3 linked regions of the Homo sapiens genome follow. The protein of the gene in region 3 interacts with the protein of the main gene of each other region in a pairwise test. Each region holds a gene or a part of one and is shown on either strand. Other genes may lie near its edges.

Evidence for each region.
Region 1: the proteins of FDFT1 (region 3) and TLCD4 interact in binary tests that used the Homo sapiens proteins (3 or more experiments, as listed by UniProt).
Region 2: the proteins of FDFT1 (region 3) and NCAPH2 interact in binary tests that used the Homo sapiens proteins (3 or more experiments, as listed by UniProt).

What each region holds. Positions count from the first base shown.
Region 1 is NC_000001.11:95,148,267-95,151,916, reverse strand, and holds part of TLCD4 (TLC domain-containing protein 4), read right to left. Parts: intron 3,216-3,650; coding exon 3,126-3,215; intron 1,710-3,125; coding exon 1,651-1,709; intron 593-1,650; coding exon 498-592; intron 1-497. Other genes in the region: TLCD4-RWDD3 (TMEM56-RWDD3 protein), read right to left, coding at 498-592, 1,651-1,709, 3,126-3,215.
Region 2 is NC_000022.11:50,518,193-50,521,842, forward strand, and holds part of NCAPH2 (condensin-2 complex subunit H2), read left to right. Parts: coding exon 1-86; intron 87-456; coding exon 457-540; intron 541-997; coding exon 998-1,128; coding exon of another isoform or gene 1,129-1,167; exon of another isoform or gene 1,168-1,560; intron 1,561-2,772; coding exon 2,773-2,844; intron 2,845-3,350; coding exon 3,351-3,417; intron 3,418-3,548; coding exon 3,549-3,650. UniProt on the Homo sapiens protein: Regulatory subunit of the condensin-2 complex, a complex that seems to provide chromosomes with an additional level of organization and rigidity and in establishing mitotic chromosome architecture.
Region 3 is NC_000008.11:11,823,172-11,826,821, reverse strand, and holds part of FDFT1 (squalene synthase), read right to left. Parts: intron 799-3,650; coding exon 607-798; intron 1-606. UniProt on the Homo sapiens protein: Catalyzes the condensation of 2 farnesyl pyrophosphate (FPP) moieties to form squalene. Proceeds in two distinct steps.

The sequences.
Region 1 (3,650 bases), on a different chromosome or scaffold from region 3:
TGCCTGAGATCTGTTGGAAGAATCCTCTATTAACCTTGGTCTTGGAATTCTGAAAAAGTCTGAGCAAGATTTCTCCACTGCTCCAACCTACTTAAATGTAATTATGTATATGTAATTGCACATGGAATTAAACAGAAAAGAAATATTTTCGCTGGCTCATACTCTTTGCTGTTAAATCATAAATGCATCTAGAAATACAGACAAATATCTATAGCTACAACAATCCTGAAGGTTTTAAATGGAAATTCAAAGAATTAGGGTCATTTGTCTGTCTCAAAATCTATGAATACAAACAGACACACCAACACCAACACAGACACACATAAAGGTATTATTTTAGTTAATACAGAAGATAGCATACCACAAAAGCAATCCCTGAATGCATCTGGAGATGGTCTTTAAAAACTAAGAATTGTATGTTTAGATTTATGTTCACCTTTACATCACTATTCCCAATCTTGTCTGCTAGTTAGGCTACAGAAAATCCTGGAACTCACCAGTACAAGGTAGTATGCATACAGGGACGCACAATGATGCATTATAAAAAATTTGTCACCAATCACTTTCCAATACAAAATTATAATGGACAAATCTGTAAGAAAGAAAAGTGAGTAAGGTATTACATAAGAAGAAAGTTGCACTGTTTTTCAAATGTATTGAACTCTTTCTCCTGCCAACTCATCACTGTCCACTCTGAGCCCACAGCACTTTGTTCATCCCTCAGTTAGTCTGATTATCTACTTTACCATAAAATCTCTGCTCCTATATGCCTGTCTCATCCACACTCCTGTGGCTCCTCTAAGACAAGGGCCAGGTTGTGAGCATCTTTAAACCCTCAGAATCTAGCACAAGGCCTGGCATGTAGGTTGGTGCAAAAGTAACTGTGATTTTTGCCATTATTTTTAATCACAAAAACTGCAATTACTTTTGTACCAACCTAATCATATGTAATATAATATTTGTTGAAAGCATAAATGAATAACTTGTTTCCAGAGTTAAAATAAACAAAAAATATTATTGAATAGAAATAATTTTAAATAAGCTTAAGTGACTGATTTTTGTCACTACAATAATTCAAACAGAGATAAGATGGTCATAGGGAAGGTACAAAATGACCAACTCATTTATAAAACAAATCGTACAAAAAATATTTTAAAAATAAAAAAGAATGCAATTAAATACTAATTCAAAATAGTGACGCCACCAAAAACTATAACTATTAAAAAGAAAAACAAAGAAAAAAGCTTACTTCTGCAAATTTTACAAAAACAACACAAAACCATGACTACTGGAACACATTTCAAGAACTCTTGCAAGTGAGGGACCCTAAAAGTTAAATTTCGTTAGTTTCACAGTCATTACACTTAAGAGCCTCATTAGGACAAAGAGGGACCATATCCTTGCTGATAAAAAATGTCCAGGCCTCAGTTGTTTGAGGCATCACTCTGTAACTCTGATCTTCAGTGAGAAACAGAAAACCATTTCATGAAAAGACATTTCATGTTCTACCATCATGGGAGGTATTTTTTTCCTCTGTATGCTTCCTAAATGCTATCTCTCAAATAAACCAAAAGCATAGACTATATATTCTTTGTATAATTCCGTGAGTAGTTTACAAGGAATTAGACAATAAAACAACATCTCACATACCAGAAATGAGGTAGCCTGAGGCAATAGCAATATTCACGTTTGCAAGTGATGGACCACCCCTGAAAAAAAAAAAAGGTTCCTTTTTAAAGTATATAGATTGTAGATGACCGCTACTTCTTTTTTCTATAGAGATTTAAATATAATAAAATTGCTTTCTATAGATTCTCAAATGGTAAGCTGTCATCTTCAAATAAAATTGCAAAACACACAATGACAGTTTAGCCAAACTGTGACGCATCATGTGGTACTGGTGTTAGCAGTAAGGTAACTACTGCTGTTATCTTACATAGTAAGATAGTTACAAAGTGAACTACTAGTGAAAGTAACACTAACTAAAATAGCTGGACTACAAATATTTAATAGAAAGATTTAGCACAAGTTGTGCCTTCTTTACAAATTTTGATCTGTAAATATAACCAGGAAAATTTGACCTGGAGTAAATCATGACATAAAATTCAAATCAAAAATTATGTTAAAGTTCGATAAGGCAAAACTTGAACAATGAATCAAATCTTTGTTATGAAATTTACTTCCCAAAAGAACTGGTTTTATTTTGCTGATGGTCACGTTAGTAAAATGAAAACGAAAATTTTTAAAAAGCTAGAAATTTTGTAGGTAGACTATTTAAAAACCTAGTCATGGAATTAAATTCAATAAATTAATTCTCTTTGAAAAACAGCATCCCAATGAAAATGTATCAATACTGATATTATTCTTCTGGGAATAATTTTATATTTATGAATAGAAAAACGTCCTTGCAGTCAAATGGTGGTGGTCAAAAGAAAAGGCTAAATTGCCCTACATCCCCCGGAGCCCACAACTACCTCATCTCAGTGCAGTGCTTCTTCAAACATGCCTGCTCTCTCAAACTAAGCTGAACTAAGCCTTCTCATATAACACCAGGAAACAGTTTGCAAAATTTCTGCCATTGGAATGACATTTAAATTTTTCTAAAAGGACCATCTTACATGTTATCCTATTACTACTGAACACAGTTATTATTAGTGCATTAGTGCTTCAAATCCTGTGGTACTAAATTCCTATCACATGGCCATCTGTAACTCTCATTTCATCTCTTTGATATCAAATGAGTCAAACATAAATTGGAGACAAAAAAGTCTTAAGTAGATATTATCCAAGTTGACTACCCTATCTCAATAATGATTTATTTTTCTTCAGAACTGTGACTACAATAACTTGGCTTTACTCATTAACACAGTAAAAATGTTTAAATTATCATCATATTCTCCTTGTTTTGGATAACAATTGCTACACTAAGGCAAAATGGCCTTCATTTGTGTTCAAATCTAAAATAAATCATTTAAATGCACTTTGCTAGAATGTCTGAGCACAAGCATTTTAATAAGGCATATACGATCAATATGTTTTCTGTTTTAAAGTAAGTGATGTTCTTATAAATAATTAATATCAAAACATAAATGAAATTGGCAATCTTAGAAAAAGAAACAGCTTACCAAAGTGGATCAGCTTTAGTAGCCTCATCGAATAAGAAAATGTACAGGCCAAAAATACCAACCACCAAAGAATGGCATGTGGATACTACCCTGAAATTAAACAAAATACACACAAAGATTTTAGATTCTTTGCAATAAAATTTAATCCTGACAAGACACAGAACATTCTGAACAAGTTATACCTGGAAGCATTTATATACAGGTGTGAAGTATAACGGAGAGTATAATGCAAAATTGCCATTTCTTGCCATTTAGAAATCCAAAGGCCACAGCTTTACTTTGGAATAAAGAAGGAGGAAGATACCAAGGCCTACAATTTCCTGCTAGAGAACTGGTGAATCACTTATTGGTTAAAAGTTCTAAGACAGATAAATGCATACATGATGATGCAGCTGACAGACTTTTGTGCAGCCAGATGGCAACTGGCAAGGCCACTACCCTTGGCTCCAAGCTCCAGCCCCAACAGCATCAATGCAGGATAAGTTTCCTGCTCCAATCAGCTGGGAATGACTTCCAGATCTACTG
Region 2 (3,650 bases), on a different chromosome or scaffold from region 3:
CCCCAGAGGGGCCTTCATGTTGGAGCCAGAGGGCATGTCCCCCATGGAACCAGCGGGCGTTTCCCCCATGCCAGGGACCCAGAAGGGTGAGGGCTTGGATGCGGGGGGCTTGGTGGGAAGGAAGGGAGGGTCTTCTGGTTGGACTCTTGTGGGGTGCCCTGTGCTTGCCACCTCTGGTCTTGGGAGCTCCCTGTCTCTGGGTGCCTGCTCTAGTCTAGACAGGTTGGCTGGTGCTCATCCCACCCATCTGCTGTGCCTTGATTACAAGTTAACATGGTCTCAGTGCCAGAGACCTGGTGCCTGGCTCAGGGCCCTGCTGTCTCCCCCCAGCCCAAGGCCTGGAGTCTGCTGGTCTCTGCCCTCCTGCTGGCCCCTTGGAGAGGCTTGTTGAACACCGGGCAGGGACCATCTTGGAGAGGGGCTGGGCTGACCTTGTCTGATCCCTGTCTCTCCCAGACACCGGGAGGACTGAGGAGCAGCCAATGGAAGTTTCCGTGTGCAGGAGCCCTGTCCCAGCACTCGGCTTCTCCCAGGAGCCAGGTGAGAAGAGAGCTCCCCGGTGGGACTGGCAGGGCAGCCAAAGAGGGGACCAGGGAGGCAGCACCCAGTGGACAGGGCTCCAAGGGGCTGCTCTCAGCTGCCAGCCTCATGCCCCTTCTGTGGCCCATGGGAGTGAGGCCTCGCCCCGGGGAAGCAGCCACAGCCCCCGGTGAGCCTCAGCCCATCTTGGTTCACTGACTGCCCTCTGACTGCCCTCCTGGGTCTCCTCTCTGGGCAGATGTGGATGGCTGCATTTAAAGAGGAACATTTGCTAAGAAATAAAATGAACCAAGCAGAGCACAGAGCACAGGAGCACGACGAGGATGGTGCAAGGCACCCGCCAAATCCTCTGGGCTCCGTGACTAAAGCTGAGGGAGGAAGTAGCCATCAGGGTCCCTTTGGTGCCGTCTGGTCTCGGCACTCCTTGGAGCTGATCACTCTCTTGCTCCCTGCCTAGGCCCCTCTCCAGAAGGCCCGATGCCCCTGGGTGGGGGCGAGGACGAGGATGCAGAGGAGGCAGTAGAGCTTCCTGAGGCCTCGGCCCCCAAGGCCGCTCTGGAGCCCAAGGAGTCCAGGAGCCCGCAGCAGGTGGGACCCACATGGAGGCCTGCAGAACCTGAGCTGTGAACTGGCAACCCTGGCTCTGGGGCCGAGTCACCTTGCACAAGGAGGACAGTGGTATGGCCTTGGCCCCAGACCACTGGTCTGGGGCAGAAGCCCACCTGTCTTGCAGCCCGTCCTGCAACCAGCCCTTTTGAAGAGCAGCTTCTGTGTTCCTCCCCTCTCTGAGCAGAACTGATGCTCCTCAGAGTAGTGGGCTGGCGTCCAAGGATTTGAGCCCTGTCGAGCTCACGGCAACCTGGGATGGCCGCCGGTTGCCAAGGCGCCTCTCTGCAGTCGGGCTGGTAGGAGGGAGTGTCTGGAGGCCATTGCTGCCTCCCTCAACCCCCGGGGTCAACTGTACCCAGCCTAGAGCCAAGAAATCCTTCCTTTTTATTCATTAAAACAAAATCAACCTGATGCATACAGAGGAAATGTTAACGTTTCTTCACTCTAGTTGGTAGATGGCATGGATATTTGTCATATTCTATTCATTTTTCCTAGTTTTGAAGAAGAGTACCCCGTGACCACTGTTTGTGTTTTCTGTTTGTTTTTTGAGATGGAGTTTTGCTCTGTCCCCCAGGCTGGAGTGCAGTGGTGCGATCTTGGCTCACTGCAAGCTCCGCCTCCCGGGTTCACGCCATTCTCCTCCCTCAGCCTCCCAAGTAGCTGGGACTACAGGCGCCCGCCACCATGCCTGGCTAATTTTTTGTATTTTTAGTAGAGACGGGGTTTCACCATGTTGGCCAGGATGGTCTCAATCTCCTGACTTCGTGATCTGCCCGTCTTGGCCTCCCAAAGCACTGGGATTACAGGCGTGAGCCACCACGCCCGGCCCACTGTTTGTGTTTTAAAGTTTTTCTTAGGGTTTTTGTTTTAATACCCCCAGAGAGTACTAGCAGGGTTTATTTTTATCTTATTTTATTTATTTATTTTTGAGACAGGGTCTTGCTCTGTTGCCCAGGCTAGAGTGCAGTGGCCTGATCTTGGCTCATTGCAGCCTTGACTCTCTCTAGGCTCAGGTGATCCTTCCACCTCAGCCTCCCGAGTAGCTGGGACTACAGGCGTGTACCACCACACCCGGCTAATTTTTGTATTTTTTGTAGAGACGGGGTCTCACTGCATTGCCCAGGCTGGTCTTGAACTCCTGGGCTCAAGTGATCTACCCGCCTTGGCCTCTCAAAGCACTGGGATTATAGGCGTGAGCCACTGTGTCCGGTCCCTGTAGGTTTTTTTTTTTTTTTTGGACGGAGTCTTGTTCTTTTGCCCAGGCTGGAGTGCAGTGGTGTGATATCGGCTCACTGCAACCTCTGCCTCCTGGGTTCAAGCGATTCTCCTGCCTCGGCCTCCCGAGTAGGTGGGATTACAGGTGTGCGCCACCACACCCGGCTAATTTTTTTTGCATTTTTAGTAGAGGCGGGGGTTTCACCATGTTGGCCAGGCTGGTCTCAAACTCTTGACCTCGGGTGATCTGCCCGCCTTGGCCTCCCAAAGTGCTGGGATTACAGGCATGAGCCACCACGCCCGACCCTTGTAGGGTTCTTGATGTTAACCCAAGGTGGAGTTCCTGGGGTACCCAGAGCCTTGAGGGGAGAAAGAGGAGAAGTGGGGACCCTGTGACTGTCTTTGCAGAGTGCTGCCCTGCCCAGGAGGTACATGCTGCGGGAGCGGGAGGGGGCCCCAGAGCCTGCATCCTGCGTGAAGGTAGGAGTGTTGGGGCCCTGACCCCCGGCAGGGAGGGATGGGCGGATTCGAGGACTGGCTGCCTGCCCATCATGCTCTTGCTCCTGCTGGCCTGTGGTGTTCCCAGCCTGTGGCCCTTTGCACTTGCTCTCTTAAAGACCCCCTCATGCGACTCTGGGCTCCCACCCTCTCTCTAGTGTTCCCCTCTGTGATCCAGGATTTGAGTGTGGTCGGCTCTGCCCCAGGCTGTCACTGCACTTGTTGCCTGGGCTTTGGGAAGGCGGCTGTGCACCCCCTACTCCTCTGGGAGGGTGGCTGTGTACCCCCTACTCCTTTGGGAGGGTGGCTGTGAACCCCCTACTCCTCCTTTGGGAGGGTGGCTGTGCACCCCCTACTCCTCCTTTGGGAGCGCGGCTGTGTACCCCCTACTCTTCCTTTGGGAGGGTGGCTGTGCATCCCCTACTCCTTTGGGAGGGACGGCTGTGCACCCCCTACTTCTCCAGCGCCTTCTTGTGCTCTGTGCCCAGGAGACTCCAGACCCCTGGCAGAGCCTGGACCCCTTTGACTCCTTGGAGTCTAAGCCCTTCAAGAAAGGTAATTGGGTGGAAGGTACCTCCACTCAGGTACCCCTGGCTGGGTTTCCTGGGGCATGAGGTGGGGGGGTGGGAGTGGGCTTTGCACCCTGATCCCCCAGCGGCTCTAAGACAGTCCCTGTTTGCCCCCAGGTAGGCCTTACTCTGTGCCCCCCTGTGTGGAGGAGGCTCTGGGACAGAAGCGCAAGAGGAAGGGCGCTGCCAAGCTGCAGGACTTCCACCAGTGGTACCTGG
Region 3 (3,650 bases):
TTCTTTTGAGAGGGAGTCTCACTCTGTCGCCCAGGCTGGAGTGCAGTGGCACAATCTGAGCTCACCGCAATCTCTGCTTCCTGGGTTCAAGCGATTCTCCTGCCTCAGCCTCCCAGGTAGCTGGGATTACAAGCCCTTGCCACCACGCCCGGCTAATTTTTGTATTTTTTAGTAAACACGGGGTTTCACGATGTTGGCCAGGCTGGTCTCGAACTCCTGGCCTCAGGTGATCCGCCCACCTTGGCCTCTCAAACTGTTGGGATTACAGGCATGAGCCACTGCGCCAGGCCGAACAAAGCCATTCCTAAGAACTTTTTGTTAAGCTAGTGCACATGGGTTGTTACCATATCCACCACTTGGAGAAAGACCGTCTGAAAGAAATCAAGGACAGCAAGGCTTGAATATACTGATTACGTGGTGTGAATCCTGGGAGTCAGCCAGTCTACCTGAAGCAAACTCATGTCAAGCTATCCTATTTTCCACATCCCCTTATGCTGCCTGGGGGAGGCCTGACTTGTTTTTCTGTCACCCGCAACCACAAGAGTTAAAGGATTTTTCAGAGAATGTCTAAAGTTATTTTCCCCCAAAATACCCTGAATCTGTTACCTCTTGAGGCCAGAACTCTCTTCCTCCTTGCTGGTCTTCCAGATAGTCACGGATGATGTTTGTTTTCTGCAAAAACAGGCCCATAGAGTTGGCACGTTCTGTATCTTCACCAACTAAGGGGTCTTCAAACTCTGAGGCTGAGAAAAGACGGGAAAGGCCAATTCCGACCAGCCCAGCAACATAGTGGCAGTACTGTAAGAGACGATTTTTAAAGCACTTTAATAATGGAATTTTTACTGAAATGGACACACTAGAGATCATTAGCTACAAAAAAGCAGGTTCAAAAGAGAATGGGTAAGAATGCATTTTGATTTTAAAATACAAATATACATACCAGGATTTAAAAAACATTCAAGAAGGATGTGCTCAAAACATTTCATAGCAGTCTCTGGCTGACGGGAATTTGATGTTTTTATTTTTCACTTGTATTTTCCAAATTTCTACAATACACATGTACTGCTACTATAATAAAAGGCTACTGAAAAAAACTAGTAAACATTTTTTTATTTTTATTTTTTATTTTTTTTTTGAGATGGAGTCTCATATATTTGCCCACGTTAGACTCAAACTACTGGACCCAAGCAATCTTTCTGCCTCAGCTTCCCGAACAGCTGGGATTGTAGGCAAATACCACCGTGTCTAGCTTTACAATAACTTTTTTTTTTTTTTTTTTTTTGAGATCAAGTCTCACTTTGTCCCCTGGGCTGGAGTGCACTGGCACAATCTCAACTCACTGCAACCTCTGCCTCTTGGGTTCAAGTGATTCTCCTGCCTCAGCTTCCTGAGTAGCTGGAATTAAAGCACCCACCACCACATCCAGCTAATTTTTTATTTTTAGTAGAGACGGGGTTTCACCATGTTGGCCACGCTGGTCTCGAACTCCTGACCTCAACTGATCTGCCAGCCTTGGCCTCCCAAAGTGCTGGGATTACCAGCCCAAGACACCGTGCCCGCCCTAGCTTTACAATAAACTTTTTGATACATAAAACTATGAGAGAAGGCAACGATGAAAGATGGAATATTCTGGTAACAGGAACTAGGACAATACCAACTATGGTTTAATCTTTTTTTGACCAATCTGATAACATGTCAAGATCCGCAGGCCCTCAAAATCATCATTATATGAAAGAACAAATAACTATTTTATGTTCTTGACACGGTTTTAAGAACTCTGCACATTCAGCCGGGCACGATGGCTCATGCCTGTAATCCCAGCACTTTGGGAAGCTGAGACGGGCGGATCACGAGATCAGGAGATCAAGACCATCCTGGCTAAGACGGTGAAACCCCGTCTCTACTAAAAATACAAAAAAATTAGCTGGCCTGGTGGCGGGTGCCTGTAGTCCCAGCTACTCAGAAGGCTAAGGCAGGAGAATGGCGTGAACCCAGGAGGTGGAGCTTGCAGGGAGCCGAGATCGCGCCACTGCACTCCAGCCTGGGCGACAGAGTGAGACTCCGTCTCAAAACAACAACAACAGAAAAAAAGAACTCTGCACATTCAATCCTCACAAACATTGTATCAGGTACATAGCAGTATGATCTCCATTTCAGATGAGGAAACTGAGGCACAAAGAAGTCGATTTAACTTGCCCAACATTGCCCATGTGAGAAAAAAAAAAAATTAGCCAGGCACAGTGACACAGGCCAGTGGTCCCAGTTACTCAGGGGGCTGAAGTAGGAGGCTCGCTTGAACCCAGGAAGGTTCAAGGGGCTGCCGTGTCTGTGGCAGGGGCTAAGAGTTCAAAACTAGGTAGTATGACTTAAGTGTCAGGCTTTAACAACTTTGCTAAAACTTCCCCTTTTCTTTTTAGTTTTTCTTTTAGAGACAACGTAACTTCCCCTCTCTCAACAGAGATTTCAGTAAATGCAACTCTTAATTGCCAAATACTTTTTTTTTCCGCGACAGCAATTTGTCAAAAGCTGTCCTCCTCTGAAAAGGGTATCCTAAGACAACTTAATGCAATATCCACATACAATAATTGTCTATTAGTTAACTTAAGAAGCAAAAGTAAAGAAGGTAAGCTCTGGAGTGTCATTAGGAAGGGTAAAAGTTAGGAAATGACCGAAGTTCACGCCTGTAATCCCGGAATTTTGGGAGGCTGTGGAGAGGGGACTGCTTGAGCCCAAGAGTTTTAGACCAGCCTGGCCAACAAAGCAAGACCTCATCTCTGTAAAAAATTTTAAAAGGCTGAGTGTAGTGGCTCACACCTGGGAGGCTAAGGCAGGTGAATCGCTTGAGCCCAGGAGCTCAAGACCAGCCTAGGCAACACGATGAAACCCTGTCTCTACCAAAAAATTACAAAAATTAGCCTGGTGTAGTGGTGTGGACCTATAGTCCCAGCTAATGGGGAGGCTGAGGTGAGAGGACTGCTTGAGCACAGGAGGTGAAGGCTGCAGTGAGCCTTGATCATGCCACTACACTCCAGCCTGGGTGACAGAGCAATACCCTGTCTCAAAAATAATAAAAATTAAAATAAATTAGCCAGGCATGGTGGCAACGTGCCTGTGGTCCCAGTTACTCAGGAGGCTGAGGGCAAGGAAGATTGCTTGAGCCCAGAAGGTCAAGGCTGCCTTGTCTGTGCCACTGCATTCCAGTCTGGGTGACAGAGTGAGACCCTGTCTCAAAAAAAAAAAGTCGTCTCTGACTGAAAGTAATACAAAGCCAGAGACTAATCAGGGGGAAGAATGCACAGGTGAAGAGAAAGCACTTGAAATTTGTTCTGGGACAAAAGTAACATGAAAAGAGTGAAATCTTGCTGAAATTAGGTAGACAGAAATTGGCTTTGGACAGCTATACAAAATCTTCAAAAGAATTACTAGAAATTTAAAAAAAAATTAGTATATCTATAGTACTATCCAAAAATATATTTGAAGATAATAGTTCTTTTGGTAGAAATACTCCTAAAATGGAGACTTATATAATTCATCTTCCCCCAAAGTAGAAGAAAAAAAATAACTCCTTGAAATAATTGGCTGGTCATGCCTGTAATCCCAACATTTGAGAGGCCAGAGTGGGAGGACTGTTTGATGCCAGGAGTTTGAGA